Linked DNA regions of Homo sapiens: all the other regions are linked to region 1. Evidence: fine-mapped expression QTL. A gene starts in region 1. Each other region holds a variant in brackets. All regions are shown on one strand. Distances are from middle to middle. Region 1 holds the start of KIF25-AS1 (KIF25 antisense RNA 1). Region 2 overlaps KIF25 (kinesin family member 25). Region 3 overlaps AFDN (afadin, adherens junction formation factor).

Region 1 (8,272 bases):
ACCATGTGCTCGTGATAATTGAGCTTCCAGAAGGCAGGTCTGGATAGTAGATTAGGAGGGTGGTCCCCATTTCACAGGCGGTGATGAGAGGCTCTGAGCCTGAGCCAGCATCGTGAGGAAGTCAACAATAGACGGAAACACGGCTCGCGCCCAGCATCGCCCCACCGTGCAGTGAGCGGCCCTTCCTACGGAAATTGGTGAAACACTTGACTTTCTGTTTCTTAAATACTTTAAGGGCATAAAATCACATGTACTGCTTTGAAAGTAGAAATCCCAGATGTATTGAGTCAGAACTTCTGTAAGTGAGCCGAGGCACAGGCAGCATGAAAACAGTCCTGGCGGGCATCGACAGGCCCGGGCCGAAGAACTTCTGCTTTACACCCTTCCAGTTAACAACATATCCCTTATATTAATTGTGTGGGTATGTTATTATTCTATAGAAACATATATAACAAATTCTTATGTAATTATACTGTGATCATTAATCATATAATTTTATGAATCGTGTATGTTCTTATTTTATAGAAACTTAACCAGGATATACAGGCGTTTCATTCTTCTTCTCGGGCGCTCTTAAGAGATTATCAGGATGAGTATCAGGACCGTGTTTCTGAAATAGTGACCGCGGTGCAAAGAACACAGCAGAGTGCCGAGACCCTGCTAGGTAGGAGGGCACCTTTCACCGAAGCCGGGCCAGTCCACACTCGAGAGAAATGTTTGCAGTTTTAAGAAAATGACCGGCTAGAATTTAAGTTTCCATTTCTTCTTCCTTTTAGCTGACACCAAATTCCACAGGTGAGGGCAGGCACTGTGTGACTCGGCCACGCTGGCAGGTGCACTGCTCCCTCCCAGCTCCCACTGCAGCCCTGCTTGCTGGAGGAGCTCCTTGTTCTCCTGGTCACCACAGGGCACTTCCCCGGTCTTGACGGTCACTGCTGAACTGGCACCTGTGTCCACGTTGGGCGTTCTGTGTCAGAGTTTCCTATAATATGACGTGAGATTTTTTTTTTTTTGTCTTATCAGTTCAGTTCTTTCTTCATTTCTAAGAATGCCACAGCATTTTGGCTACTCTTTTGTTATAATGGATTTATTATCTTCAGCTACTGTGCTTGAAGCCTGTGGAAGAGGTTACTTTGGTTCTGCAGTTTTAAACTCATCGTCCAAATTGCACTAGCCGGCCAGGCCCGATGGCTCATGCCTGTAATCCCAGCACCTTGGGAGGCCGAGGCGGGCAGATCACATGAGGCCAGGAGTTTGAGAGCAGCCTGGGCAACAGGGTGAAACCCGTCTGTACTAAAAATACAAAAATTAGCCGGGTGTGGTGGCGCATGCCTTCGATCTCAGCTACTTGGGAGGCTAAGGCAGGAGAATTGCTTGAACCCGGGAGGCAGAGTTTGCAGTGAGCCGAGATCGCACCATTGCACTCCAGCCTGGGCGACAGAGCAAGACTCTGTCTCAAAAAAACAAAAGAACCAAATAGCACCATCCCCACGTTCGTCTCATGCTCACAGCTTCTGCCCAGTGTTCAGTGTGTCCACAGGCCAAAGAGATGATGGTCAAGTTAGGAACTTGGTCAAGGGTTGTGCTGCTGATATTCCAAAATAGGTGTGTGGAAACTTTGGAACCTGTACTGATCTTCTGCGAGGCTACATGATGTTTTATTGAAATCACTGCTGTAGCCTAGTTTTCTTCAGTGCACTCTGCTCAGTAACTCCCCTAAGGCCGTGTTTGTAGGAGTGACGTGTGCATGCCTGTGTTCTTTTTTTGGGGGGCGGGGGGCGGCGGGGGACAGAATCTCACTCTGTCGCCCAGGCTGGAGTGCAGTGGCGCCATCTCAGCTCACTGCAACATCTGCCTCCTGGATTCAAGCTATTCTCCCACCTCAGCCTCCCGAGTAGCTGGGATTATAGGCGCCTGCCACCACGCCTGGCTAATTTTGTATTTTTAGTAGAGATGGGGTTTTACCATGTTGGCCAGGCTGGTCTCGAACTCCTGACCTCGGGTGATCTGCCCGCCTCAGCCTCCCAAAGTGCTGGGATTACAGGCACGAGCCACCACAGCCGGCAACGCCTGTGTTCTTATAAGCCATGTGCTCCAGGGAAAGGGACAATCATGTTATTTTGTGAAAAGCAGTGTACTTAAGCTTTGAAAAGGTGAAACTCAAAGGGAGAAGCAGGGAGCCGCCAAGGCTCTCCCGCAGAGGGAATGCTGACGTGTGAGGAGGCAGGGCCTGCTGAGGCCCTGCCTGTGGGAGCCACGGTGCAGTCCTGCCACACAGAGGGGTCCCCAGGCGGCTTATTTGTGCCCAGGCGTTAGGCTCAGGGGCTCGGGGCCTCCTTACCTGGCTTCCCTGGGGGCGCGACTTCTCCCCTCGAGTTCCATGCTCCTCAAAGATGAGCCTCAGCCACCTCAGGTGCCCAGGCAGCTCCTTTCAGCCGTGCTGACAAGAGGGATAGTGGGGACAGGCTGGTGGCTGGGGCCGGACACACTCAAGGCTCAGATGACCAAGTGACTGGGAGGGTCTCTCTCTTGCTGTGGGGGACCCTTCCCGCTTTCTTACGCCCACATTCAGTCTGGACCCGGTAACGGGTGTTTCTTTCAGAAAGGGAGCGTGCGCAGTTCTGCAAGTCCAGCTTGGTTTCAGGCCTCATGAGAGCTGCATCTGCGCTGAGGGGTCCTTGTCCCTGCAGGTCCTCGGGCCTGGGGTAGAAAGCCCCAGGCTGGGCTGCATCCTTTGGCTAAGTGACATGTGGAGGGGTCCCTGGCTATCATGACGCGTACAGCCGCGAGGCGTCCTCTGCAGCACGACACCGAGCTCCATGTCACACTCACGCTGCCTCCACGGCAATGGCCAGTCTGGGGATTGGGGTGTCCACGCTCGTCCAAGGCCCCCACGCGATGCCCACTCATCGCCACATCACCTGGCACCATCCTGGTAGGACAGAGGCGGGAGTAGAGGCCCAGGCCACTGTAACAATCCACAGCAGCAGAGCTGGGCCCCAGCATCTCCTTCCCTGCCCCACTCCCCCCTCACCAAGGGCTCCCAGGTGCTTTAGGAGCAGAGACCTCCTTGGCTGCCATGCAGACGATGGAGCAGCATTCACGGGCTGATGGCATTTGAGGCTGATGACGGACGGGGTGACTGTGGGGCCAGGTCCCCCAGGCGAGCTCTGTGAGTCCTTGGTCGTGGTGGAGACAGCGCAGCCTGGGTCCAAAGCAGTGAGGAGCACAGGCCACAGCACGCAGCCGGCCCTGGAGGACTCCATTATTTTTAAAAATGTCTCCCATACTTAGAGAAAGGAATTTGACCTGCTGGGCCCCATGGATGTCCTCTCCGGTAAAATGCCTCCGTCCCTTTGTCCTTTCAGCATGCCAGTCAAAGGTGGCGCACCTGGAGCGGGCCTTGCAGGACGTCAGTGCGCGTCACCAGCTGGAGAGGCAGAGAAGGAAGGTCCCGCACAACAGCCTGGTGGTGGGTGTGGGCGTCAGGGGAGACCTGGGGCGGCCCCGGGGAGAGGCCCACGCAGAACGTGCAGAAGCCTCCTCGCCGGAGGGACAGCGGGAGGGACAGCGGGGGGACAACAGGGGGGACAGCGGGGGGGGGACAGCGGGGGTGTGACAGCGGGGGGGACAGCGGGGGGGGACAGCAGGGGTGGACAGAGAGGTGGACAGCAAGGGGGACAGCGGGGCGGCCTGGCCGGAGGGCAGAGGGGCAGAGCTGCGGGGGCTGCGACCTGCGTCCTCTTCACCCAGGAGGCGATGGCAGCTGGAGGACGGGTGAGGGCGCCGCAGGCTGATTTAGGCTTTCGGGGTCACTCTGGCTGCTCGGTCGGGAGGCCACGACGGGGAGCAAAGGGGATGGCTGCAGTGTCACGGGGGCTGGTGGCCTGGGCCACATTGGTGGCGATGCAGGAAGTGGGACCGGCTGCTGTGAGGCACAAGGAAAGAGCTGTAGCGGGCAGTTGGGGGCGGGGGAATCTGCAGAGATGGGGGCGGGGGAATCTGCAGAGATGGGGGCGGGGGAATCTGCAGAGATGGGGGGCGGGGGAATCTGCAGAGATGGGGGGTCGGGGGAATCTGCAGAGATGGGGGGCGGGGGAATCTGCAGAGATGGGGGGTCGGGGGAATCTGCAGAGGTGGGGGCGGGGGAATCTGCAGAGATGGGGGCGGGGGAATCTGCAGAGATGGGGGCGGGGGAATCTGCAGAGATGGGGGGCGGGGGAATCTGCAGAGATGGGGGGCGGGGGAATCTGCAGAGATGGGGGGCGGGGGAATCTGCAGAGATGGGGGGTCGGGGGAATCTGCAGAGATGGGGGGCGGGGGAATCTGCAGAGATGGGGGGCGGGGGAATCTGCAGAGATGGGGACTTGCGCGGGAAAAGCAAGGATTTTGCTGTAACTGGAGATGCCGGTGGAGACTGCCCCTGCCCCTGCCCCTGCCCCTTCCTCACCAGCACCTTCCACCCACGTCTCTCACTGCCCATTAACAAGACCCAGAGGCTCTCGTGCTTTCTTGGTCGAAGGTATGAGACCTGAGATCCCATGAAATTTAATGTAAAGTCTCAGGGTTTGATTTTGCAACACGAGGATGCCAAGGTGGATGATTGAGTGGGTGACCCTCGCTTCTGTGAGGTTTGATTTTGATGGTTGCACTTTGGCCAGTTTCTCCGAATTCCACCTGCCCGAGGCCCACGAAGCCAGTGTTCCTGCGAAGCTTCTCTTCCCTGGCCATGCCGAGAGGTTCTCCAGCTGTTAGATGTGTCAAAGAATAATTCTCATTTTAAGCATCTACTTATGTAGTTCAGTGCTCCAAACATTGATATAAGAGAACATTTATTGAGTGCTTCCTGTGTACCAAGTACTTTTGAAACCATTTGGTGTATTTTCTTATTTAATCTTCACAATAGCACCACCTCTCTGGGTTGCTATAAAGACAAAGGGAGATATCAGTGAAGCACCTGGCACTTCAGAAAGTCTCACTACGCTGCAGCTTTTTTTTTTTTTAATCTGGAGCATGAAAAAGATAATATGAACCTTCCTAAGATGGAGTCAAGTCCCACAAGGAAGAATTGGTTGTGGAAGTTTCTGAGTGTTCCACCTCAAGCCTGGTCTCCTGGTCTAGCTGAGGAGCGTGCAGTGCGCGGCCCATGGAGAATATGCAGGCAGAGGCTGATCCCAGCTTCTGTGGGTTCATAGAGACCAGACGGAGGCTGTAAATCATTGGCCTATGACACCCACTTGGTTTTCAAAATGTAGAAGGAGCTGCTCAGCATGACAGGGTGGATAAACTTGCTGTGGATCCAAGACAAGATTTCAGAATGGATTTGGCAAGTTCTGAGCACATACGGAGAAGATGTGTTGCTCACTGGAAACCAGTGGAGTTTATGAGAATAAAAAGCTTCTAATTTCCTTCCAGTCATTAAATCAAGGAAATATGACAGATACTGAATTTCCAAAATCCCCTCTAAAATGCCTAAAATGTCGAGCCCAGGATGCCATTCAAAGGGATTTTCCTTGGTACTTATTACCAAGGGATACCCCTTTGCCAAGTGAACACATTTGTGAAGTATGAATCCAGAAGTTTAAAATAACTGTTCATGGCCGGGCACGGTGGCTCATGCCTATAATCCCAGAACTTTGGGAGGCCGAGGCGGGCGCATTACCTGAGGTCAGGAGTTCGAGACCAGCTTGGCCAACATGGTAAAAACCCTTCTGTACTAAAAATACAAAAATTAGCTGGGCGTGGTGGTGGGCACCTGTCATCCCAGCTACTCTGGGGGCTGAGGCAGGAGAATCACTTGAACCTGGGAGGCGGAGGTCGCAGTGAGCTGAGATTGCATCACTGCACTCCAGCCTGGGCGACAGAGCAAGACTCTGGCTCAAAAAATAAATAAATAAAATAACTGTTCACTACCCTGCAGGGGTCTTTCGAAGTGGAGACAGGTGCTGCAGATCTCACGGCCGCGTCTCAGGAGCTGGTGCCCGGTGCACGTTCAGTGGGGGATGCTCCGCAGTGCAGGCTCGCGCCCGGGTTGACACGCAGACCTCTTGATCATTGCAGGAGCTGAAACGAAATATCAGAGTTCACTGTCGGATTCGTCCTTTGTTGCCTTTTGATAGTGAATCCGACGATCCAGTTTTGCAGAGCAGGTAACCTGTGTTTGCACGGTGTGTGTATGTCTGTGTGCTCAGGGAAAAGACAGAGGAGTGGCACAATTTTAAATGCCGTCTACTGTCCTGTCCCCGGTCCCAAAGCAGGACATTCTCGAGTTGTGGGTGGGGGCTCTGTTTAAGGATGGCGCTGTCTTGCTGACAGTGGACACTCTGCAGCCCTCTGTAATACGGCCTGCAAAAGGCCAAACTGCCTGAGCAGGCCTCTCGTGCGTGGTAGTGGTTCTGCACCTGAGAGGGCGTCCGTCTTTTCGTGGTTTGCCTCTGCGGGGTCCGACCGAACAGGGACAGGCTTTGAATGGACTTTTCCCTTTATGTCACTATATCAAAAAGGGAGCACCCTGCCTTTATGAACCCCAAAGACCACCCACTCCGCCATGCAGGCAGTCAGTGAGTATTGACTCAACTGATACTTTTGACTTAGAGAAAGTTTTGATGGTATTCATGGATACAGCAAAATTATCTGAAGTTCATTTACTCAAATGCTTACTTGAAAACCATACTCAATATGACTTACTTCCTTCCCCATGAAACAAACCCCCTGGAAATCCCCACTCCCATCCTGACCACACCTGACCCTCCCCACTCCCATCCTGACCACACCTGACCCTCCCCACTCCCATCCTGACCACACCTGACCCTCCCCACTCCCATCCTGACCACACCTGACCCTCCCCACTTCCATCCTGTCTACACCTGACCCTCCCCACTCCCATCCTGACCACACCTGACCCTCCCACTCCCATCCTGACCACACCTGACCCTCCCCACTCCCATCCTGTCTACACCTGACCCTCCCCACTCCCATCCTGTCTACACCTGACCCTCCCCACTCCCATCCTGACCACACCTGACACTCCCCACTCCCATCCTGACCACACCTGCCCCTCCCCACTCCCATCCCGACCACGCCTGACCTTCTCGCCCTCCCTCCATAAACCTGCCCCTCCCCACTCCCATCCTGACCACACCTGCCCCTCCCCACTCCCATCCTGACCACACCTGGCCCTCCCCACTCCCATCCCGACCACGCCTGACCTTCTCACCCTCCCTCCATAAAGCTGCCCTTCCCCACTCCCATCCTGTCTACACCTGACCCTCCCCACTCCCATCCTGTCTACACCTGACCCTCCCCACTCCCATCCTGACCACACTTGACCCTCCCCACTCCCATCCTGTCTATACCTGCCCCTCCCCACTCCCATCCTGACCACACCTGACCCTCCCCACTCCCATTGCCGACCACATCTGACCTTCTCACCCTCCCTCCATAAACCTGCCCCTCCCCACTCCCATCCTGACCACACCTGGCCCTCCCCACTCCCATCCTGACCACACCTGGCCCTCCCCACTCCCATTGCTGACCCTCCCGCCACTCCAAGGTGCTGCGCTTCCCGGCTGTCCCAACGCCATATGGGGTTGGCCGTATGCACCAGTTTGCTAGGGGCACTGGGTCCCACTCCTGACTTTGCTTTGCTCAGGCTGTTTTTCTGGTCTTGGTTTCCTCCACTTAATCTGTCCAAATGAGCTTTCCCTGGAGGGCCTGGCTTGAGCCTCACAGTGTTTGCATCCTGCAGTTTAGCACCTGACTTGAGAAGGTCTTTAGAAAGCACTTGGCCGGTTCTACAGTGTGAAACAAGAAATTCGGATCTTTTGATAGTCATTGAAACTTTTTCTTTTCAAAGTGTTTAGACATGATTGTGCTGGCTCTAGTACTTTCTGCACTTTTTTGACTGGTGGCCACTTGTCACTTGTCAAAGGACTGGAAATTGGGCCTGTCGGATACGTCAGTGTGGCGCGGGACAGGCCAAGTGGCCCTCATTCAAAATGTGTGGGACCAGAAGAAGTGTTTCCGATGTTGAATTGTTTCATATTTTCGAATGTTCGTGTTTTGTATGGACCGGTTCAGCAAGATAATCCAGTGGGCATTTTCTTTCAGCGTCATCTCAGTGCTCAAAACGTTTTGGATTTTGGAGCATTTTGGATTTCAGGTTTTTGGATGAGGGATGCTCAGCCTGTAGTTAATGGCCCCCAGCGGTGATCAGCTTTCCTGAACTTGCCTTTTACATGGCACTTCCAGACGGCTTTTGTTACACACCAGC
Region 2 (8,272 bases), 23 kb after region 1:
GTGTGTGTTCCTGTACGGTTCATACTGGAGCACTAGGATTACATTCTGGCATAGCATCAAAGGAACGGTCCCCGAAGTGGACAGCAGAAAAATGAAAATATGCCGCGAGAAAGGAGCAAAGGGCCTAGGCTGGCGGTTGGATTAGGGACTGGGAGGTCTGTTCTTATGGCGAGGCCAGGGGCTTGGTCCTGGCGGGTGTCGGAGTTTTGCTTCGGTGTTTTGAGCGTGAAGGGAACTGAAGAGCTGCTTCTGGCTTAGGGGATGTGACATTATCATGTAAGAACATGCAGGTTCCGAAACAGTTTCTGGTACACAGTGACTGCCCAGTAAATACTCAGCAGAGACATAAGCTTCTTCTGTGAAAGCCGTGCCGGAGCACGAGCACGCGCAACCTCCACATCCTGGTGGTCGTTTCTGTGCTGCGATGGAGACCACGGACCGCCCCAGCCACCGGCTGCTCCTCCCGGCATTGCCAGAGTCACTGTGGTGGGGCCTGCATCCCCACCCACTCTCCCAAAAGTCATCCCAGGAAATTGGATACAAATCACGGTAGCAAGTGACCTCCCAGTCTACCAAATCCAATAAAGAGTTTTAAACAAGGACCCAAGCGACCTCTCCCCAACAGGTGGCATTCTGCGTCACCCACTCCCTCCCTCTTAACTTTCTTTCTTTGGCTTCGGTGACTTCATCTGCTTTCTTCTTTTCTAATTTGCATTTGAGAAAGATTTCTACAGCAACAACATAAAGGACAGGTGGGAGGGGTGCTGGACTGGAGGCAGAGGCCAGTTAGGGGATAGCCAGGGCGCTGTTTCATTACACTGGACAATAGCAGTGGGCATGGGGCAGGGAGCAACCCAAGGCTGCCTACGAGGCACAGCCGAGGCTCTGTCCCCAGGCAGCGCGGGGCTGAGGCTGGCGTTCCGTCATTGCTTCCTGAGCTGCCCCACTGAGAGACACGCCGGGGATTCCCACGGCCTCTCACCTCTGGCAAGACAGGACAGGTTCACTATTTGATTATCTCAGCATTTCACATCGGAGACCTCACAGAATCCAGAGGCAGCAATAGTCCGGCAGCTGCCCACGACTGCCCGTCCAGCAGTAAGCGAGTAACAAACAGCAACAACAACCACAAACAGCTGTTGAATCTCACAGCTTTTGTCTTTATAAAATAGGCCACTTCTTTGACATGTTATTGCAGACACACACACACAGACACACACACTACTAAGAAGAAGGTGTGGAGGTATCATCCTAGCATCCGCTAAACACTGTTATGGAAAAAATCCAGTGCCTCTGGGTTATTCGCCACTGCAGTTGTGGTTTTCATTCTCCCTATCACCCCTGCTATTTCATGAATACACATTTTGTTTTAGAACTGGAACCAATCCAGGTTCATCTTTTCTTTGCTTAAGTGAAACTAAACTAATTTCAGATTTCTTGCTGAAAAATGCCTTTGCTTCCCTTACACAGGATATAATTTAAGAATACAGTCCAGCAAGATCGAAATTTGTTTTTGAAACAGACATGTTAGTTCCACTGGTTACGATGGAATATAATGATGTCTGAGATGTGATTTTTTTGCCATTTGAAAACCTCTCCTGCGAACTGTCAAGGGCCCTTAGAGTCAGTAATTTGGGTGTTGAACCCTCAGCCTGTGGCAGATTGAGGAGCTCTGTTGTGTGTTCCCCAGTAGATGCGACTTTCTTCTTCTCTTTATGGGGGTCGGCAAACCTTTTTGGGAAAGGGCCAGGGAGTTAATATTTTCGTCGTTGAAGGCCACGTGGTCTCCAACTCAATCATCCAGCTTTGCCCTTGAGGAAGAAGCAGCCATACACAGTCTGTAAACAAAGGACGGGGCTGTGTTCCAGGCAAACTTTGTTGTTTACAAAAACAGGCGGCAGGCTGGGGTTGGTGGGGCTTGTGTTTAATTAACGCAGCACACAAAGTCTTATGACGTCGTTTTACTCTTTTCTCTCAGGAAACAATTCTGGTGAAATGTGATCGTCCTGGCCACCCTCTGATTGATAAGACATATCATTTTGAAAGGTAAGTGCTTTTCAAGATGTCCTATAAAGCAAACTTCCATATTAAAAATACAAATTTTGCATTGGGGTTTGAGTAATGAAATATGTAATTTATCCTATCATTTGACTAATTGTGATTATAAATACAGACGGTCCCTGAGGTAGATTTTTCAACTTTAGGAAGGTGTGAAAGAGATACACATTCAGTAGACACTATGTCTCGAGTGCCCATTACAACCCTTCTGGTTTTTGCTTTCAGTACAGTACTCAGTAAACTACGTGAAACAGTCAACACTTTAGTGTACAAGCTTTCCATTTGGTGATTTTGCCCACCTGTAGGCTAATGTGTGTGTTCTGGGCACACTTAAGGCAAGCTAGGCTGAGCTACAATGCTTGGTAAATTAGGTGTATCAAATGCATTTTCAACTTGCAATATTTTCAACCTACAATGGGTTTCTCAGGTCACAACCCCATCATAAGACGAGGGACATCTGTAATCCATATGTTCATTGTTTTAAGTAAATAGACATTTTTTATATATCCAGTTTGTTGATAGTAATTTCGTTGTGATGATAGCAACTAACAATAGGGCTTTCTGTCAGATGCCTTCCTCGGCACTGGGTCGTGGTGTATTCCCAGGGTGGTAGGAGAGCCCCGGAAGGCTCAGAATCAATGCGCGTGGCCTTTGGAAAGCCCTGCTCATCCTCCTTCAGCTACCAAGGGCTGGCTGAGTGGTCCTGCTCCCAGGCTCTGTCCTCCTGCTCCTCGGAAGGACGTCAGTGCCTGAGGCCTCTTCCTCTCCCCGGCAGCAGCCTGTGTCGCTCGATAGGGTCACATCTGGAGAAGGGCAGAGGGTTCCCCTCAAGCCTCCGCTGAGCACTGACCAGCACAGGAGCGGTAAGAAGGAGGAGGCCAGGAAAGAACCACCGGGGAGGAGCCCGGGAGAAAGTCTGCAGAGCTCACACAGGCCTGGGAATTGTGAGTGCTCCCGCCGGGGCAGAAATACCTCGTGATACACAAGGCCTTGGGTAGAGTGAGAAGTTAGCCCTGGAGTAAAGGCTGCTGGTGCCATGCGGCAGAACTTAAATGCAAGCCTCGAGGGGTCAAGTTGTTTCCAAGTAACTGCTGGCATCCCATAATAAAGCCGAAGAAAAATTACTGGGATTGGAGGGTCAAAACATGGCGCACCCAGTTAGGAGTAATTAGCAAAGTCTGACATCAAAAATTACCAGACATGATTCAAGGAAGTAGGAAAATATGACCTCTGATGAGAAAACTCAGGCAACGGAAATAGAGCGAGAAATAACACAAATGATAGAATTAGTAAAGAAGGTGAAAACAGTTGTTATAAATCTGTGTGTTCAAGGAAGTAGAGGAAAATGTAAACACGTTGAGTGGAGATATGAAAAATTATAAAAAGACCCAAATAAAACATCTGGAGATGAAAAAAATGCCATAGAGGAGACGCGAACGTACTGGTTGGGATGCAGGAGAAAGACGGGTGAGCTTGAGGCCGCAGCAA[C/G]AGAAATGACCAACGTGAAACCAGGGAGACTCCATAGCGAGTGGACAGAGTGGGCTCCGGGGACGGCTGGGCTGACGCAAGCCCCACAGTGCGAATGAGCTTGAGGCCCCTGGACGGCACACTTGAAATGGTGAAAATGTCAATTTTGTTATATGTATTTTTTTACCACAATTAAAAAGGAAGTGAACAGAGCATCATGGCGCCATGGGACCATGATGTATTGGCTTCCAAGAAGCCAAATACAGCGGGAGTTGCAGTCCCAAAAGGTGACGGGAGTGGGCGCTCAGAGAACATTTGAAGAAGTCGGCCGGAGGTGGGGCGCGGTGGCTCACGCCTGTAATCCCAGCACTTTGGGAGGCCAAGGCGGGTGGCTCACGAGGTCAAGAGATCGAGACCATCCTGGCCAAATGGTGAAACCCTGTCTCTACCAAAAATACAAAAATTAGCTGGGTATGGTGGTGCACACCTGTAATCCCGCTGCTTGGGAGGCTGAGGCAGGAGAATCGCTTGAACTCAAGATGTGGAGGTTGCAGTGAGCTGAGATTGTGCCACTGCACTCCAGCCTGGTGACAGAGTGAGACTCCATCTCAAACAAACAAACAAACAAACAAACAAACAGAGAAACACCAGAGATAAAATGACCAGAGTGAAAAGACACGTTGAAGACTCAGGGTCAGACATGAAAATGACCTTAGGCTTCTCCACAGAGCAATGCAAATCAAAAGATACAGGACCAGCACCTCTAAAGTACGGAAAGAGAAACAGTCCATCCAGAGTTCTGTGCCAGTGAAAATGTCTTTCAAATACAAAGACATTTCCAGACATGGGAAAGCTGAGAGAATTAATCGCCAGAGACACACCACAAGGAGTGTACAACGGATTCTGTCCTGAAGGACATGTGGGCATATGCAAAAGACGCTTTTTCTTATTAAAAAAAAAAAACTCTTCCAAATCTAGTTAACTGATTAAAGAAAAATAACAATGGATTGTGGAGCTCATGACACATGCAGACATAAAATGCACGTGAGCAACAGTGTGAAGGCTGGGAGTGGGCGTGCAAGTGTACTTTCGTATGGTCCTTATTTGGTATGTTAGGCGATAGAATCCGATTGCAGGCAGCCTCTAAGTTACATATGGTAAACCCTAAAACAACCACCAAAGACAATAACAAGCTAGAGATATATACAATAAGCTAACAAAAAAAGATACATGGAATTATAAAAAATCCTCAATCAAAAATAAATGTCAGGAAAAAGGGAAAGAGGATTTAAAAGATGGAAAAAGGAAAGGGATGGAAAAGATATATTTACCTGAATGCTAACATTAATCAGAGGAAAGCTGTTCTATATCTCAATAAAGCTATTTTAAAAACAAATAAAGGCGGTCAATACAATGGCAACCCAAATCATAGCAGGATGTTTTGTAGAAACGAAAAAGCTGATGATAAAATTTATATGGAAAGGTGAAGGAACTATAATAGCCGAAACAACTTGGGAAAAGGACAGAGTTGGAGGACTCACACTACCCGATTTAAAGACTTAAAATCATTAAGACAGCGTGATAGAGGCAAACCAACAGACACATCATCAATGGAACGGAGAAGAGTTCAGAAATAAACCCACACAGATGCAGGCAGCTGACTTTAATAGTTTTACTCTTTTAATGGTGGGGGCTGTCCTCTTAATTTATAGTATTCTGAGATATCTACCTTCCATGTTGTTAAGAGAATTTTTCTGGAAGAGCAGGAGAAACCCATTTTCTATAAAATATCTGTCCCAACATCAAAGTCATCAAAAGAAGCAGCAAGAACCGACCCTGCCTCCCCAGCTTCCGCTGCTTCAGAGGAGAAGCTCCCTCGAAGACAGATCATGGTGAAGTTTTCCCCTTTCTCTCTGCTTCAAATGACGCACGAGTTTACATACTGTGCTAACCTATTTCTGTTTATACAATTCATGTGCTTTTATATATAAAATTTATAATTGTAGAAAAATATACCTGACATAAAAGTTTACCATTTTAGCCATTTTTAAGTATACAGTTCAATGGGACAAAGTATGATCTGGTGCAACCATCACCACTATCCATCTTCACAGTGTTTTTTGTCATCCAATCCTGAAACTCCAAACCCATTAAACACTGAATTGCCTGTCTCCCCTCCCTCAGCTGCTGGTAGCCACTGTTCCATTTTCTGTCTGAGAAGTCTTATCTAAGGCATCTGTGCATTTTATCGAAGTCTGGTAGGGAAGGGATGTTCTTTGCAATAAGCCATTCTGGAAATTACAGATAGTGCTGGGATTTCTTAGCCTTTGCGGTCGTTCAGGATCTCAGAGCATGGGTAAAGTTCAACGTTATCAATTTTTTCTCTAGATGCTTTTAAGAGTTTTCTCTCTGACTTCAGTGTTCCAAATCAAAGTGAAGCTGCACTGTTTCACTCGGCAGTTGCTGAGTTTTTTGTTTGTTTTATTTTATTTTATAATACTGCTTGGGACTTTTAATCTTTGAATTAATGTCATTCTTTAAGTTGAACAATTATCAGGCAAAATCTTTTTAAAAGTACTTTCTCTCCTTCTATCTATATCCTTTTAATGAAATTCCTATTAGATATAGATTAGACCTTTTCATTCTACCATCTGTGTCTCTACCATTACCCGCTTTTGAGATGATCGCCTTCCTTGTATCTCTCTGCTGCATTCTGGGTAATTTTCCTGTGACAATCTTTTAATTAATTCACTTATTCTCTCTTCATCCATGGGTAAACTTCCATTTAACCCATCTGTTTTTCGTGCTTGTAAATTATTTGGCTCATTTTTAAATCTTCTTACCCTTTTAAAAATAGTCTTCCATTTTCCTTATGTTTTGTGTTCCTTATTTTGTATCTTTACTGATTTATTTTTTATTTTTTAGTGACAGACTCTCACTCTATCACCCAGGCTGGAGTGCAGTGCTGCAATCATAGCTCTCTGCAGCCTTGAACTCTTGGCCTCAAGTGATTGTCCCACCTCAGCCTCCCGAGTAGCTAGGATTACAGGCATGACTTTATTCATGTTTAACATTGTTTTCTTAAGTCTCTTTCAGAATGTTCTATTGTGTCTGGTTCTTGTGGCGGCTGCTGTATTACTTGTATCTTTGTTGCCACTGACTGTAGTGATTTATTTATTTTGTGTTTTATAAGTTTTTACTGCGAACTTATCTTTGGTGAGGAGTTTTTTTGATTGTTTGTTGTTGTTGTTTTTTTTTTTTTTTTTGGTAGGAGACTTGTGTACTCTTGGCTGTGGGTTTGCAACTATGATTTTTCCTGCAAGGGCCTGGGGTTTCACAAAAGTTCTGAATCAGTTTTCAGGTAACGTTTGTGGTTTGTGATTTCTCTGCCCTGTGGGCTCCTTGCATTTGGATTCTGTGCTCACTTGCGGTGCAGGTGTGAGGCTTTGATTGCTCACAGGAGACCTGACTCCTCATCTAGACTCTCAGGCACGTGGAATACTTTCTTACCACTTATCTGGACCCCCTTTTCAGGGACTAGGCCTATCTTTGAGTGCCCTGGACTTGCACAGCCATGGCACCTCCATGTCCTGCCTGCTGTCTCCAGAGGGCAGAAAACCCTGCCTTGTAAGCCCTGTTGCTTCTGTCTGGATTGGTTCCTCAGCCTGGGTGCTTGCAGTACCAACTCAAGCCTTCTACCCAGCCTTTTTCCACTCTTCATTTCTTGCACCTAGGAAGTTTCCTTCTTCCTTTTTTTTTTTTTTTTTTTGAGGAGTCTTGTTCTGTTGCCGAGGCTGGAGTACAGTGGCACAATCTCAGCTCACTGCAAGCTCCACCTTCTGGGTTCGAGCGATTCTCCTGCCTCAGCCTCCCAAGTAGCTGAGACTTCAGGCATGCACCATCACATCCGGCTAATTTTTGTATTTTTAGTAGAGACAGGGTTTCACCATGTTGGCCCAGCAGGTCTTGAACTCCTGACCTCAAGTGATCGGCCCACCTTGGTCTCCCAAAGTGCTGAGATTACAGGCGTGAGCCACCATGCTGGCTAATATTTGTATTTCTAATAGAGACCGGGTTTCACCATGTTGGCCAGGCTGGTCTTGAACTCCTGAACTCAAGTAATCCATCCGCCTCAGCCTCCCAAGGGCTAGGATTAAAGGCGTGAGCCACCGTGCCCAGCCAGTTTCCTTTCTTTCTTCCCTTCAACGTCAGCAGCATATTTTAAAACATATTTTGTTTCTATTTTATCTGCATTACTTACATGTTGGTTAGGGGAGAGAAAGGGAGTTGTATCTTAGCCACCATGTGTCGCGATCTGGTGCTTCAGAGACAGTGCACTTTGCAGAATGTGTTTTACTACTCAAGGATTGCAATAATATTAGAATCTGTATAGTCTCATGCATTTTTATTATTTACTGAAAAACATTTTATTTGTATATCTAAAACCAAATAACTTGATTTTTTTCCCCTAAAATAATCATATTTAAAAATCTCACTATGAATACTCAAGAAAATTTTCATCAGTTTCACATGTAATAAAGTAGCTTCCTGAAGAAACTTCCATACACGGTGCTGGTGGTTCAATGGATTTAATTTGTAAGAGCAAAGCCAGTCTTCACGTGCAAAAGCTTTTTCTCATGTCTGTGCACTAAAAACAGTATAGAGAAAAATGATACTTTTTATCAGTGTAGAAAAGAAGCAAATTTATGAGCACTTTGGAGTAATAGCCCCATGGCTTAGCTTCATC
Region 3 (8,000 bases), 41 kb before region 1:
ATGCTGAGCAAGGAGATCCAGGAGCTCCAGAGCAAACCGGACCGCAGCGCCGAGGAGAGCGACCGGCTGCGCAAGCTCATGCTGGAGTGGCAGTTCCAGAAGAGACTCCAGGAGTCGAAGCAGAAGGACGAAGATGACGAGGAGGAGGAGGACGATGATGTGGACACCATGCTGATCATGCAGCGCCTGGAGGCTGAACGAAGAGCGAGGGTAAAGGGGGGAGTGCTTTGGCTGTGCCCATCTGTGGTCCCTATTTTAGCTTCTGCGTGTTTCCCATGGGGATAGCTAGGCCCCTGATCGTGATAAGGATTAAAAGGGCCCCTAGGCTTATACTGTTTTATTGTATGTGTTACTCTTGGCTGATGTCGTAGAGAAATGAGTCAGGCCTATAAGGCTAAATTTTTTAAGACATGCTTTGACAAGTATTAAATACAATTCAAATGGAACTTGATTGTTTTCATTAGCAAACTCATAATTATCCTTTTCCTTAACACTTCCAGTTGAGAAAACAAGTATTTGTTAATGACCAGTAATAATCTTGATCCAGGGTAGGCAAAATTTTTCTTCCAGGGCCAGATTGATACTTTAGGCTTTGCAGGCCACGGGGTCTCTGGCAACCCCCAGCTCTGCTGTTGTAGCACAAAAGCAGCCACAGGCACAAGTAAACACATGGGTGTGTCTCTGTACCAATAAAACTTTATTTACAGAAACACAGGGCAGATGACTGTCTGGCCCCTGGTCTTGTCAGCATTTTGTGGTGGTGAACAAAAGAAACTGTTCAGATCATTACATTTACAGTCATTACCAAAAATAGAATCTTCACAGTAGTTGTACTGTTGATGAAGCAAGCATTTGTTAAGGTAATAAACAATTATATTCCAATTGTAGCATAAAGATATTGAGAACTGATTTTATTCTTATTTCTCCACAGTATGAAAATGATTTTTGTTTTAAATAAACTAACAAAAGTATAAATTCGTTTAACACAATAAATTGTGATGCAGAAATTTTAGATAAAAGCAAGACTTTGTTACTCTATAAAGAGAACTGTTAAGAGGCATTTACTGCTATTAATTTGGGCATTTATTAATATTAATTTATAGAGAATGCTATTGACCATATTGTGTTCATGAGTTTTAGTGATTTTTTTTTCTTTTTTAGACACAGTGCAATATTTTGAGAAAAGATGGCCAGAGCCATGTTCTTTTTATCTTTTGGATTCTGTTTCTAATTTCAACTGTTTTTTTATGCTGTTAATGGTAAAGCTCTACCAGGAGCTATTAGGTCAGACATTTTAATCTTTCTACCTCACAATGAAATTTAACCTTAGATAATAATTTGTGAGTCCTTAGATCCTTGGAGCCCAGTAGTGTGATTCTTTTTCGATTTGCTCTGTGAATTTTTCCTGAAAAGTCTCTCTCACACATACTTCTTAATATATACATATCTCAGCCAAAATGTGTGTATATATAAAACTTTGCCCAAAATTCAGCTTGAATCCCCTTAGACACTTAAGTTTCTTAAATGAGGCCAAAGTGTGAATTATTACATTGTTTTACTACTATTTTTATTAGTATTCCTCAAGTCATTAGTAGTAAACTTCCTGATGAGTAGCTGTGTTTACTGTAAGCACTGTTTTATTTGAAAAACCAACCACTACATTAATAGCTATTTTACTTTAAAAGTAGCTTAAAAATTACAGTACTTTAAAAGTACTCTGCATTCCCCTCCCCATCAGAGCTCTCTGAAAGGTGCTGGGCCTGCTGGCGCCAGGTGCATGCTCCTCTGCTCTGGCCAGTGTCGCTCCTGGGTGCACTAAGATGGATTCGTTAGGATCCTAAGGACGTTCATGGCCTTGTGTCACCCACACCCCAAAAGATGAAAAGATGTCTTTTCCTTCGCTGCATTTTCAACTCTGAATATACAACTGTTGTGTATGGCAAATGAGTCAACAGTATCAGCATTTCTTATTGTTATAACTGTATCCTGACAATAATGAAAAATTAGCCTTGTAGTATTTCTGTAAGTATCTTTTTCTGTGAGGACTAAACTTTTATTTAAAGGTCTCTCAGAGTTTTTCCAAATGGGTTAAAACACTGAATATTTCAAAGCCTTTTAGTATGAATTGCGATATTTGGAAAGTTTCTTATGAAAATTTAGTAAAAAATATTTGCTTTTTGCTTAGTAGTTCTGTTACAATTAGTATCTTAGTCTCCAAATAAGAAAGCTAAGGGAAATTTTGCTGTTTTTTATTTTCTATGTATCCTAATGATGAAACTCATTTAATACCATGTGGGCATTTTTCTGTTTCTGAATACTAGAAGTTAGTCTGTAGTTCTTTACCTTTCTCATCAAGTTGTCGAAACACAGATGACGCATGATAGTGAGAAAATATGCCGATGGCAGATTACAGGTCTAAACCTAACTTTTTTTTCCACACTTCATCTTTCTTTTTTTTTTTCTTTCTCTGTTACCTGCAGCAGACTGCTATGCCAGCAATCTCTGTTCTAGATTTGGTATGTTCTTGTTTCTTTCCCTTTGGTACTTTTTTCCTGTCTTGATTTTCTTTTCTTTCAGTGGTGGCTGTTTGATGTTTTCAGTAGATCCAGTTCTCCTTAGGGGTGTCCTCCATCAGGAGATGGAGTCCCTGACACTTTAGAAGCATGCCTTTGAATGTTCCTAGATTTAGTTACTCTTTGCTTTTCTCCGTTAATTTTAAGTGTTACTGTTTGTTTATGGTTTTGACCTTTTCTCGGTTTCAGTCATAAATTGATTCCGTGTATTCTTACGTAGTCATAAATACATGAGCAAATGAAATAAATTTTGTAATGAGTAATCTATTTCATTTTTTTCACATTAGACATAGATTTTAAATATTCAGTTGTTATAAACTCAGCTGAAAGGGTATTGACATTATTTGCCAGTTAAGATATAACTGTCTGTTGGTAGAGTAAGAGATTTCCAGTGAACATGTATTCTATGTTTTCTTTAATAATATAACATGGATTTTAATTCAGTTTATCAGCCATGCCAATTTATCAGTCTGCTGAAAAATACTTGAGGTTCATGGTCTGTTGTAAATTCAAAGTGTTCATTGTCATATTGGGGAAGTTTGGCTCATCGTTTAGGGCCCATTATGCTTGCGTATGGTATCTTTATCACCTGCTAGACAATTATACTCTGATATATTTATATAAACTTGAAGACAAATTCTAGTCAACTTATAAAGACAAAAGCCAATATCAGACGGTACATTTAAAACCTGTGAATCAAGGTTTGACTTTAGTGGCCTTTTCACCAAATAATAGTCCCCTTTTCCTTCCCCCCTCAGTTTAGCACAGCGGTAATAACACCTTAGAGAGGAACCTTTCTTACAAACACCTTCCCTCCTTGGTGATTGGAAGGCATATTTTCTGAGCTTTGCATTTTTTTTTTTACATGAAACAAAGATTTAAAAGTTATACATTTTTCTCCCTACTTCTTTGTGTGTTTTGATGTACATAAGTGTAGCTGGAAGATATTGATCAGAGTCACCTTAGTGTGAGATATTCATTCAGCAAATACTTGCTCAGCATCCATGACACGGTGGGCACTGACCTGAGGCATTGAAGATACCAGCCAGCTCTCAGGCCCAAAGAGAGTTTCTTATACTATGAAGAATTCTGTGACACATGAACAGTAAAATAATGCTTGCAATAAGGTTTTTGTTCCATAGAAATAATTCAGAGAGTTTCTTTCTTTAGAAGATAATTATTTTGAGTATTAATATTGATCTTAACCACATGTTTCTGAGCATTTCTTAGCCCAGTTCCCCAGTACATATTATTAACAGCACCTCATTATTTATAAAATTCTTGGGTGGGCACAGTGGTTCATGCCTGTAATCCCAGCACTTTGGGAGGCCGAGCAGGTGAATCACCTGAGGCCAGGAGTTCAAGACCAGCCTGACCAACATGGTGAAACCTCGTCTCTACTAAAAAT[A/G]CAAAAATTAGCTGGGCACAGTGGCGGGCACCTGTAATGCCAGCTACTCAGGAGGCTGAGGCATGACACTTGCTCGAACCCAGGAGGTGGAGGTTGCAGTGACCAGAGATTGCACCACTGCACTCCAGCCTGGGGAACAGAGCGAGACTTTGGCTCAAAAAAAAAAAAAAAAAAAAAAAAAACTATAGAATTCTTTTTATGTAAGAATTGGCAGGTTACCCTAGGAGACCCTCATCTGTGAAGATATTAGCCCTCTCCTTAATAAGGATAAGGGCAAATATGTGACTATATAGGGAGTGACACTACCCAGTATGGTTCTTAAGATATTTTCTTAGACACATCACAGGATTTTCAGGTAGGTAATTAGAGAAATGAGGCAGGTCTTTTCCTGTTTGGAAGCAGCTGAGTTTCATAAAGTTGGGAGGCTGCCTGCACTCGTTTCTGCTCTTCCCTCTGGTCTCTTTGTGACCCATCACCCCTGTCAGTCCAGGGCCTACCTTCTCCATCCTCTGTGCTCACTTCCGACCTGAGACGGTAGCACCACTTTGATGCCAGCAATATCCTCATTTGATTTCTAGTCCAAACTTCTCACATACTAAAGACTCAGATATCCACCTGCCCATGTAACATCTCCACATGGAGTCAAGTAAGACTTTTGGAATGCAGCATGCTCAAAGTGAAATCTTTGTCTGCTTCACTCACCTTGCACTGCTCATCATTCTGCCTTCAGCCTTCCCCATTTCAGCTGATGCTTCGAGTTGCTCAGGCAAGAAACCTCACAGTCATGCATGACCCCCTTTTTTCTCTGTTCAGAAACTCTACTGGCTTGACCTCCTCACAACCTGACCAATCTCTGTGCCCCCGTGACCAGAGCCTCTCTCCTTTTCCTGCCGGGGTCACTGCGAGAGACTGGCAGGATCCCTCGGTACTGTCCCCCAGTCCCTTCACAGGACAGCCTTGACATAGCATACAGCAGTCTCACGAGAATGTCCTCACAGCCCTCCTAAGTCTCTCCTTTCACTTAGACAGGCGGTCTAAGTTTGCTCGGGTCTCATCTCCTCTTCACACCCTTGCCCACTGGCCCTCCAGCCTGCCTGCCTGCCTTCTAGTGACCCTCCACATGTTGGGCCGTCGGGAGGGTCCCTGCCTGTCTCCATGGCTGACCCTCTTGGCACATGCAGGTGTCTCTCAGATGCCACCTTTCTGGGGGGGCCCACCTGCCCCCACTGCTTCATATGGGGGGGGCCCACCTGCCCATGCTGCTTTGTATCAGGGGCCCACTGGCCTCACTGTGTCCTGTGTGTTTTTCTGTGGACATGCTATACACATTACTCATCATTAGGCATGTTTGTCTCTTCTGGGTAGCGCCACCTCCATGGGAACAGTGACCTTTGTCCAAGTTTCTAGAAGAGTTCTGGAGTGTGGTAGGCAGTCGAGTGAGTGGGATCGGATTCCAGGCCAAGGTCCCAAGCTCTCGAAGGTGTGTGACCTTCCTGACTGTTAGCATCTCAAGAGTAAAGCTGTTACTAGGTTGTTTCCTATTTTAATGACTGAGATGGTGTGTAAGTCATGTTCAAACCAAAGTCTGACTTGCTGGAGGGATCTCCTTCAGCACTAGATTATGATGAAGCCCATTGTGTCGTTAGGGCTTTTCCTTTATATCGCATGGGCAAATCCAGGACACCTGGAATTCGTCAGGATGTCTGCTTTCTCCTGGCAGAGTACTCTGTCCTAGCCTTGGAACCTGTCTCTAACTTGAGTAGCCGGTTAGTTAGGACCATGGAGGTGGCCGTGACTGTGGCTGCAGCTTTGCCTGGCTGCAGCCTCGAGAAGTAGCTAGTCCTTCCACCTGATGACAAGGTGTGTGATTCGTGCCTTCATTGCTCCAGGTTGCCACATAACTGCATATATTCCTCTCATTTCCTCATGACAAAGCTATTCTATGGCAGAGCACAAGGGCCTAAGCCAGCATGGAAGAGATTGACCCAGTATCACACAGAGCACGTGAGAGCCAGGGTCCCCAAACCCACCATGGGAGAGACTTTGCCAGTACATGTTGAACATTCCTAATCTGAAAATTCAGAATCCAAAATCCAAAACTCTTTGAGCACCGACATTATGCCACAAGTAGAAAATTCCACACCTGACCTCAGTGAGAGGTTGTAGTCAAAGCTTCGTTTTATGTCCAAAATTATTTCAAATATGTTATAAAATTACCTTTAGGCTATATATATAGTGTATATGAAACAGAAATCAATTCATATTTAGACTTGGGTCCTGTTTCCAGGAAATCTCATTACATATATGCAAATAGTCCAAAAATAAAAAATCCAAAATTTGAAACACTTCTGGTTCCAAGCATTTTGGATAAGGGATACTCTGCTTTGTATCACATGGATCAGGTGAGAGTGAAGGTTTTAACGAGAGTTTTCTGAATTCATATTACGTGCCCTTTCTAGGACACAAAAATGCCTCTTTTTGTAACACTGTAGTGGCAGGAACCATTTTCTCGAAATTTACTTGGTTTGACAAATCTCTCAGTGGCTAAGCTCAGGTTTGTCTTGTTAACACGTTTTAATGGATCATCTGCTGACTCAGAAAACATGAGAACTCACAGGAGAAATTCCTCCCCCTTGGGGTAATAATACCAGTGAAAAGATGTTTTCAAAGAGTTCCGTGGTTCTGCTGCTTTCCTTACATGAAAGCCCAAGCTAGGTCTTCCCTCCTCTTCCGCTTTCTTGTTTTTGTTTGCTTGTTTTTGCGTGGAACTGTAGAAATTGGACATGCCCCTCTTGAGCATCCCAGGTATAGAAGGGGTTGAATTAAAAGCCTTATAAAAATTTCAAGCAGGAATTAGTAGGAAGCCTAATTTCAGAATTGTTTCTTCAGAGAAATCTATCTGGGGGAAGTCAGACTGTATTTTGTCTATTCAAATTGGAGTGCCTCTAGAATGAAAATGGGCCCTGCCCAGAATATCAGAGCCACAGTGTAGTCACAGTGCATCTTCAGGAAGTCTCAGTTTTACTCAAGGAATTAGGAGAAGAAATATGTATTAAAACCAACACGTATATATTGCAGAATGGAATACAAAGTTTGTATGATTGCGTAAAACAGTTGCCCTAAAAGAACTTCAAGTTTCTGTTGTAGGCCTCTTTGAGCCACACTGTCTTCCTTGTGGATTACGGTGTTAAGTCTCTGCCACAAGGGCGTTTCACCAGCTAAGCTCTAGATCTTACAACTTCTAATAAAATGGTCATTTTACTTAAATCTGAAAAAAGTGTGTGGGCTGTGCTACAGGAAGGGAGCTAGCACTTACTGAGGACCAGGTGCTACAGTGGATGGTTTTTCCTGTGTCATTTAATACATTCTACCACTGTGAGAGAGGACTTCAGTTTCCTAATGAGGAAATCGGTCCCTAAGACATAGAGTAGACTTTTGCTTGGTCTAAAAACCAGGTGTTATGTCACTTACCAGAGGTACTCCGATTCAATCATTAATTTGTAATAAATGATCAGGTGTTTTCTTCATGTTTTTGTCCCTAAAATTTTTTTAGGGTGGACATTTTTAAAGGGAGGGAGCATAGGCAGAAAAAGTCTGTAGAGTAAAAGGCTTTTTAAGGGCTTTAACAGAGTCGTGTTTTCAGTAATTTGTCAAAAAGTAAAGGGTATTATGACCCCATTTTATGTTCAGATACCAGTTTCATTTTCATGATACAAAATTATAAACACACAGATCTCAACATATACACACACATATATATGTATATAAAACCTGAAAATACCTGTTTTGGGGAATGTGGACTACCCATATAGCAGAACCTTGGTTCAAGCTTGCTACATACTGGCTTTCAAATCCCAGTGTAGTTCTCGATTTAGAATAACTTTCAGTCTGCATGGTCTTGATTCATCGGGTAATAGTTATTTTTTAATCTATTCTGCACTCTCCTCAAAGATCACTTCCTGCAAGGCTATTTTGGTAGCATGTAACTTTTCATTCTTTTAATCAAAGTGCTAATCTAA

Evidence for each region.
Region 2: its variant is fine-mapped to the expression of KIF25-AS1 in prefrontal cortex (GTEx, PIP above 0.99). The same link has a PIP of 0.9 or more in anterior cingulate cortex and cerebral cortex.
Region 3: its variant is fine-mapped to the expression of KIF25-AS1 in cerebellar hemisphere (GTEx, PIP 0.98).

What each region holds. Positions count from the first base shown.
Region 1 is chr6:167,993,172-168,001,443 of GRCh38, forward strand. It overlaps KIF25-AS1 (KIF25 antisense RNA 1), which reads right to left and starts at 3,906. Exons shown (of 4, transcript NR_103750.1): 1 at 3,735-3,906; 2 at 3,067-3,430; 3 at 2,342-2,932; 4 at 1,016-1,293. It overlaps KIF25 (kinesin family member 25), which reads left to right and starts at 4,500. Exons shown (of 13, transcript NM_030615.4): 1 at 4,500-5,699; 2 at 5,921-6,149.
Region 2 is chr6:168,015,995-168,024,266 of GRCh38, forward strand. It overlaps KIF25 (kinesin family member 25), which reads left to right. Exons shown (of 13, transcript NM_030615.4): 5 at 1,979-2,046. Among named protein-coding and RNA genes, the nearest start is that of KIF25, 22 kb to the left of the region's middle. The variant C/G (reference allele first, on the strand shown) is at 3,547.
Region 3 is chr6:167,951,978-167,959,977 of GRCh38, forward strand. AFDN (afadin, adherens junction formation factor) reads left to right here. Exons shown (of 34, transcript NM_001386888.1): 30 at 1-210. Among named protein-coding and RNA genes, the nearest start is that of HGC6.3, 24 kb to the right of the region's middle. The variant A/G (reference allele first, on the strand shown) is at 3,982.